Homo sapiens: one gene and its partner. The main gene of each other region encodes a partner of the protein of the gene in region 2 in a complex. Each region holds a gene or a part of one and is shown on either strand. Other genes may lie near its edges.

The links.
Region 1: TIMM50 (region 2) and TIMM17A share a complex: the UniProt entries of both Homo sapiens proteins name them as parts of the TIM23 complex.

Annotation. Positions count from the first base shown.
Region 1 is NC_000001.11:201,953,200-201,956,947, forward strand, and holds the start of TIMM17A (mitochondrial import inner membrane translocase subunit Tim17-A), read left to right. Parts: upstream 1-2,303; 5' UTR 2,304-2,327; coding exon 2,328-2,353; intron 2,354-3,748. UniProt on the Homo sapiens protein: Essential component of the TIM23 complex, a complex that mediates the translocation of transit peptide-containing proteins across the mitochondrial inner membrane.
Region 2 is NC_000019.10:39,479,182-39,482,929, reverse strand, and holds the start of TIMM50 (mitochondrial import inner membrane translocase subunit TIM50), read right to left. Parts: upstream 2,093-3,748; 5' UTR 2,077-2,092; coding exon 1,969-2,076; exon of another isoform or gene 1,942-1,968; coding exon of another isoform or gene 1,870-1,941; intron 1,701-1,869; exon of another isoform or gene 1,614-1,700; intron 1,048-1,613; coding exon 897-1,047; intron 46-896; coding exon 14-45; intron 1-13. UniProt on the Homo sapiens protein: Essential component of the TIM23 complex, a complex that mediates the translocation of transit peptide-containing proteins across the mitochondrial inner membrane. Has some phosphatase activity in vitro; however such activity may not be relevant in vivo.

The DNA of each region.
Region 1 (3,748 bases), on a different chromosome or scaffold from region 2:
CAATAAGATATATATATGTGTGTGTATATATATATCCTCTTGGTTCTGTTTCTCTGGAGAACCCTGACTATTCCTGGTGATTTAGTCAAAATAACTGATCTCACAAGAGGCAGATACATAAGCCAGTATTAACTACCAAGTGGAGAAGAATAGTTATAAACACAGGCCAGGGTATTCTCTTCTATATCGAAATCTATTCAGAAGCCAAATAAGAAGAAGAAGATTGCATAATAAATATGGAATAAGAACAAAGGGAGGTAGCTAGAGCTAGAGCTAAGGGATATTTTATCTGGGTCCTGGTGAGAGTGCAAATCTCTAGTTACTAAAATATTTATACCCACCAGGTCTTCGGTGCTGACTAAATGTCAGATTCCTGCCCTCTGAATTCCTCCATGTCCCCTCTCCCACATTCTCTCTTTGGCCTGTACAATTAAATAGAGTTAACTATTCTTAATTACAGTCACATTCTGAACACGTCTTCTCCACCTTACACACCCAAATCAGATAACTAGTATGAACCATTCTCACGTGCAAGACACATTTATTGATAATCTTTAGTTCCATGGAGGGTTCGATTCATCTGCTTACTTTATTTCCAAGCTTTTGGAGAGACCCTCACTCCTCTTTGCAGTCTTCCTTTATTTATTTATTTATTTGAGGTGGAGTCTCGCTCTGTCACCCAGGCACAATCTTAGCTCACTGCAACTTCCACCTCCCACGTTCAAGCCATTCTCCTGCCTCAGCCTCCTGACTAGCTGGGATTACAGGCAACACGCCAGGCTAAATTTTGTATTTTTAGTAGAGACGGGGTTTCACCATGTTGGTCAGGCTGGTCTCGAACTCCTGACCTCGTGATCCGCCCGCCTCGGCCTCCCAAAGTGCTGGGATTACAGGCGTGTGCCACTGCGCCCGGCCTCTTCCATTATTTATGACATTGACTTTTCCGTAAAATAAATATATACATATTTTTAAAGTTAATTACAAACGTACAGAATGGAGAGGAGCACTTTAACAGCCATCACATGATTGGGATTTTGTTGACAGTAAACTAAAAGCTCCATGGGTCCCAACCTTTTTTTTTTTTTTTTTTTGACAGTGTCTCACTCTGTCACTAGAGTGCAGTGGCATGATCACAGCTCCCTGCGGGGTAGATCTCCTGGGCTCAAGCTATCTTCCCGCCTCAGTCTCCCGAACAGTCAGGGCTACAGGCACGTGTCACCACGCCCGGCCTGGTCCCCATAAGTCCCCTCTTCTCCGAGCCAAACATCTTCACACCTTCTGGTGATCATTAGTGGAGAGGCCTGTGAGAGGCTCTGGTGTCAATGTCCCTGAAATCGAGGGCTCCAAATTGGTCATGGCTCTCCAGATGGCCCAAACAGTTCCAGTTCACAAACATTTATTGAGCATCTACTACATTCCAGGCACTGTGGTTATTATAAATCACTGAGACACTGTTTGCCCTAAAGGAGCTACGTGTATTTGGTAACAGCTTCACAGTAAGTGACGAATAAGATAGCATTAATCCACATTTGACAGCAAAAGTACCAAAAAAGAAAGAAAGAAAAAGAAGAGAGAGAAAGGAAAGAAAAGAAAAGAAGAGAAAGAAAGAGGCCGGGTGCGGCGGCTCACGCCTGTAATTCTAGCACTCTGGGAGGCCGAGGTGGGCGGATCACGAGGTCAGGAGTTCGAGTCCAGCCTGATCAACATGGCGAAACCCCGTCTCTACTAAAAAAACATAAAAATTAGCCGGACCTGGTGGCGCCCGCCTGTAGTCCCAGCTACTCAGGAGGCTAAGGCAGGAGAATCGCTTGAACTCGGGAGGCGGAGGTTGCAGTGAGCCGAGATCTCGCCGCTGCACTCCAGCCTGGGCGACAGAGCCAGACTCTGTCTCAAAAAAAAAAAGAAGAAGAAAAGAAAAAGAAAGAAAGAAAAAGGATGGAAGGAGAGAAGAAAAGGAAAGGGGGAAGGGAAGGGGGAAGGGAAGGCGGAAGGGAAGGGAAAGAAAGAAGCGTATTTAGGCAGTATCGCGTTGATTTCAGTCCACGGAACCTCTGGTGACCGGGTAGTGTGACTCCGTCATTGGTAGCCCCCCGCCCACACAGCCGGGACTCGCGGCCTTTGAGGACGTGGGCAGGGCCAGTCTCGCCACGCCGCGGCCAATGCCCCGACCACACGCTGGCCACAGGAGTCCTGGCTCCCATTGGCTGCAGCGGGAAATGGTGAACCAATGCTCATAGACCTTAACGCCCTCCTCTCGGGATCACTTCCGCCTCTGGGGTCAGGCTCCGCCCAGCTTGCCCGGCATCACTCGCGGCATTGGAGTCAAGATGGAGGAGTACGCGCGAGAGCCTTGGTGAGCTTCACCGCTGTCTTTGCATTTCTCTTGCCCCCCTGCCCACTGCCCTCCTTCTCCCTTGTCCAGGCTCCCAAGGTGCAAGCCAGACTCAACCGCAGCCTCGTCGACTTGGGCCTGGTAACTGGGCAATGCGGTCTTTCGCGGCCAGTCGGCTTCTTAGCCCTGTACTTAGTACCTCCCCGGCCGCGTGAGCCTCCCTCTCCCAACCCAGCACCCGTGTGACCTTGTGATGGATGGTAAGGAGGTCCAGACTTGAGTTTGATAGAACCTCGGAACCTCCTCCCAACGCAGGGCGTAATCGACTTTATGCGGGGCCAGTTATAATCCCCCCTGTTCGTCGAGGTGACCTTGGGCGCGTCCCTCCGTCTCGCCTTGCTCAGTTCCTGCGTTGAGGAACTGAAGAATAGGCATTTGAGGGAGTGTCATTCTTGAGGTTTTACTTGTATCATGATATGTGTCCACAGAGTGAAGCATTTTAAATGAATGGAACATAGATTTTAGCCAAGGGGTCTGGATAAGCTTCTTTATTGCGTGGGGCCTTGTTTTCCTTCTTGGAATTCTTTCTTGAGGGTAGAGGGGGACAAAAATTACCTGGGAAATAGGAAGAGGTAATAGCATGTGTTCTCTGAAAAGCCATGGACAGAAATTCATTGTTACATCCAGCGTTTATTGAGTATGAATAAACCAGACACATAGATAATTATAAAACGATGTAATTGCTGTCAGAAGTCTCAGGTTGCCAGAGTTTAAAGTTTCTAGGGTCATAGGTAAAAAATCAAATCTTGATATTTCGGTTAATCATTTGTTTTATTGTGTAAGAGCAACAACCAAGATGTCCTCAATTTGTGAAAGTGCCCAGGACCTTAAATTACTACTCTGGTATCCTAGCCTTGTTGCATGTTTTATGTTCCCCTCTCCCATAAATGGCATACAAAATATAAGTTTTAGGGTCTCCTGGCTCTTCAAACTTATCTTCTTCAAAGCAGTTATCCTCCATTCTGGATTGTGCTCAGATATGTAGGACTCAGCACACTGTAAATAGCTGTTTGATGTACTATAATGACACAGGTTAGCAGAGAGTTAAAATATTTAACTATGTTGAGTTAAAGATCTTAGAAAAATAAGGCCGGGTGTGGTGGCTCACGCCTGTAATCCCAGCACTTTGGAAGGCCGAGGCGGATCACGAGGTCAGGAGTTCAAGACCAGCCTGGCCAGTATGGTGAAACCCCGTCTCTACTAAAAATACAAATATTAGCCGGGCGTGGTGGCACGCGCCTGTAGTCCCAGCTACTTGGGAGGCTGAGGCAGGAGAATCACTTGAACCCAGGAGACGGAGGTTGCAGTGAGCCAAGATTGCGCCATTGCACTCCAGCCTGGGTGACAGAGTGAGAC
Region 2 (3,748 bases):
CTTTCCCCCTCACCTTGGCACCATTTTCGTCCACCGGGTTGTTTCCTGCAAGGGAGACCAGGATGAATATGAGGAATTAGGGCCCAGTCCCCTGGGTCCCGAGGGAGGAGTGGGATAAGGGGCCTGGACTCCTGGATCTGAGGAAAGAGAGAGGCACAGCCTCCTGGAGTCAAGCCAGGAGGGGGCTGGGAGCCAAGATTCCTGGGTCTTTGAGAGAAATGGGGCTGGGGCTAGGTCTTTTGGGTCTGTGGGATTTTTTTTTTTTTTTTTGAGACAGAGTCTCGCTCTGTTGCCCAGGCTGGAGTGCAGTGGCACGATCTCGGCTCACTGCAAGCTCCGCCTCCCGGGTTCACGCCATTCTCCTGCCTCAGCCTCCCGAGTAGCTGAGACTACAGGCGCCCGCCACCACACCGGGCTAATTTTTTTTTGTATTTTTAGTAGAGATGGGGTTTCACCGTGTTAGCCAGGATGGTCTCCGTCTCCTGACCTCGTGATCCGCCCGCCTCGGCCTCCCAAAGTGCTGGGATTACAGGCGTGAGCCACCGTGCCCGGCCGGGTCTGTGGGATTTAAAGTAACTAGTGGGAAGGCTGGATTTTTGGCTGCTGAGGAAAGACAAAGTTTAGGAAGCTGATCCAGGCCTATCCTTCCCCATCTTCCCCTCTTTCCTTTATCCTGGTACAGGAACCAACTAGAAAGACTAGAACCTTAAGGAGTGGAAGGGAGAAGAAAGAAGACTTCCCTGGTTTTCAAGGTAGGTGTCTTATTTGGCTGCCCTATTGAGGAAGGAGCCAGGGAATGAAGACGAGAGAAGCTGGTAGTGGGCAAGAGTGGGAGGTTCCACAGTGGACCAGGGAGGCCAAGGAACAAAACTGGGGGACAGGGATATGTCCCTCACCAAAGATATAGACGACGCTCACAGTCCCACCAGCTCCAAGCAGCCCAGCAAGCCAGAGCGCAACTTTTTTGGCATAGCTGGGACCCTCTGAGCCCGGCTGCTGCTGTGGCCCTTGCGCCTTAGTGCTCCCGCGGCTCCCGATCTCTGCGGCCTGCGGTTGAGAAAGGGGAGGTCAGCCAAGAGAGAAGAGAGGTCAGGATGGTCCCCACCCTCCAGTCCAAGAAGAATCAAGTTCAGGAGCCAAGAGGCAGACACCCACAGAGCCCTGGACATCTGTGTCCCTGGAGTAGCAGTCAGGATGTGGGGCTGCTCAGAGGGTCAAAACCAGACTGTCCCGCACCAGGATGCCAGGAGTTTTAAAAGCTAACAGGCCAGGTGCACAGGATCCTGAAGGCAACAGGACTGGAGGGTCTGCAGCCCAGAAAAGCAAAGCACGGAGAATAAGGGATGGGAGGGCCTAAACACTGGGATGAGAGGGAACGGAGGGCACAAGTGGTGGGGGAAGGGGTACAGACAGAACCGGGAGTTACGACGTCCGGCTGCTTGGGGCTAAAAGTAGCAGAGTTATAGGGTAAGGGATAGGAGCGGAGGCGGGGAAGGGCAATCACTTGTCTGGGGCTTGGGGAACTAAGGCACAGAAGTGATAGACTTGGAGGTCAGAATGGCTGGGTCTCTGTCAACATGGAGGCAAGTCGAATTGGAAACCCAAACGTCTACCTCGCCACCACCAACGCCACAGAGAAAATAACTCCCACGGCCAGACTGGGACTCCAGCGTCCCAGGCCCCTCCTGCTCAAGTATCACCTGAGTGGTCACTGAAACGGGGAACGGTAACCCCCTCCTCCTCCGGCACCCACGTGGGTGGGAGGTGGGGTCTAAGGACACACCTGGATTCCCAGCCTCCAGCCTAGGGGAGCAACCACCCAGGAGGTTGGGAAGGGCCCCAAAACACAAGCGGCGTTTCATTCAGCACCCTGAGGTGAGGCGTCCCGGAACCCCCAAGGGGCGGCGATATGTCCGTAACTCCAGGGAAGGGACCCCACATTCAGAGGGCCACCCTCGTTCCGCTCACCTGATCTGGGGCCCGGCGGGGCGGCGTCGCCAACCTCGTGCACAGTCCCCGCGAGCCGAGCCGGAGCCCGCTTCGCAAGCGCGAGAACACCGCTGCCGAGGCCGCCATCTTGCGCTGACGCCACGCGGCCCCGCCCACTCGCTCCCTCTTCGCCCGCCCCGGGCCGGAGCTACAGCCAATGGAAACGCGGGGGAGGGGCGGGTGGACGGAAGCCCGAGAGAGACCAAAGGCATCGGGCGGATTGCCGCAGGCGCGTTTGCTTCTGACTAGTCTCCTGGCTGACCCTGGGGGCGACAACTGGGATTCAAAGTCATCTGGACCACGCCCCCTTGGGCCTTGCAGAGCGCCACCGCCCCTGCAAAGGACGCAGCGAAGGAAGGGATCACACTTATTGCCCAGAGATAAAGCTGAGGCCATAATGAAGGGAGTCAGTGGCTGCCTGATTTGTCCAAAAAAATAGTCACGAGTCAGGCCGCTTGTCTCACCGTGTAAGGCAATCGGCCCTCACCTCCCAATTGTCTGAAGGGATGGGTTGCCCCTCCACACCTGTGGGTGTTTCTCGTTAGGTGGAACGAGAGACTTTGGAAGAGAAAAAGACACAGAAACAAAGTATAGAGAAAGAAATAAAGGGGGCCCAGGGGACCAGCGTTCAGCATACGGAGGATCCCTCCAGCCTCTGAGTTCCCTTAGTATTTACTGATCATTCTTGGGTGTTTCTTGGAGAGGGGGATGCGTCAGGGTCATAGGATAATAGTGGAGAGAGGGTCAGCAGATAAACACGTGAACAACGGTTCATAGACAAGGTAAAGAATTAAATGCTGTACTTTAGATATGCATACATATAAACATCTCAGTGCCTTACAGAGCAGTATTGTTGCCCGCATGTTCCACCTCCAGCCCTAAGGCAGTTTTCCCCTATCTCAGTAGATGGAACATACAATCGGGTTTTATACCAAGACTTGCCCAGGGACGGGCAGGAGACAGATGCCTTCCTCTTGTCTCAACTGCGAAGAGGCGTTCCTTCCTGTTTTACTAATCCTCCTCAGCACAGACCCTTTACGGGTGTCGGGCTGGGGGACGGTCAGATCTTTCCCTTCCCATGAGGCCATATTTCAGACTATCACATGGGGAGAAACCTTGGACAATACCTGGCTTTCCTAGGCAGAGGTCCCTGCGGTCTTCCGCAGTGTTTGTGTCACTGGGTACTTGAGATTAGGGAGTGGTGATGACTCTTAAGGAGCATGCTGCCTTCAAGCATCTGTTTAACAAAGCACGTCCTGCACAGCCCTTAATCCATTTAACCCTGAGTTGACACAGCACATGTTTCAGAGAGCACGGGGTTGGTTATAGAGAACCCCGTCATCTATAACAGGGTATGGTTATAGATTAACAGCATCTCAAGGCAGAAGAATTTTTCTTAGTACAGAACAAAATGGAGTCTCCTATGTCTACTTCTTTCTACACAGACACAGTAACAATCTGATCTTTCTTTTCCCCACATTGTCAGAAATAGACATTGAGGCCCAGAAAACGACCTGAAAAGCCAGCCCTCGAAAACTCTTCTGGCCAGGCGCTGTGACTGACACCTATAATCCCAGTGCTTCGGGAGGCCGAGGCAGGAGGATCGCTTGAGGCCAGGAGTTTGAGACCACACTGGGTAACATAGCAAGACTGCAATCTCTATTTTTAAAATTAATAATAATAGGCCGGGCGCAGTGGCTCATGCCTGTAATCCCAGCACTTTGGGAGGCTGAGGCAGGCGGATCACCTGAGGTCAGGA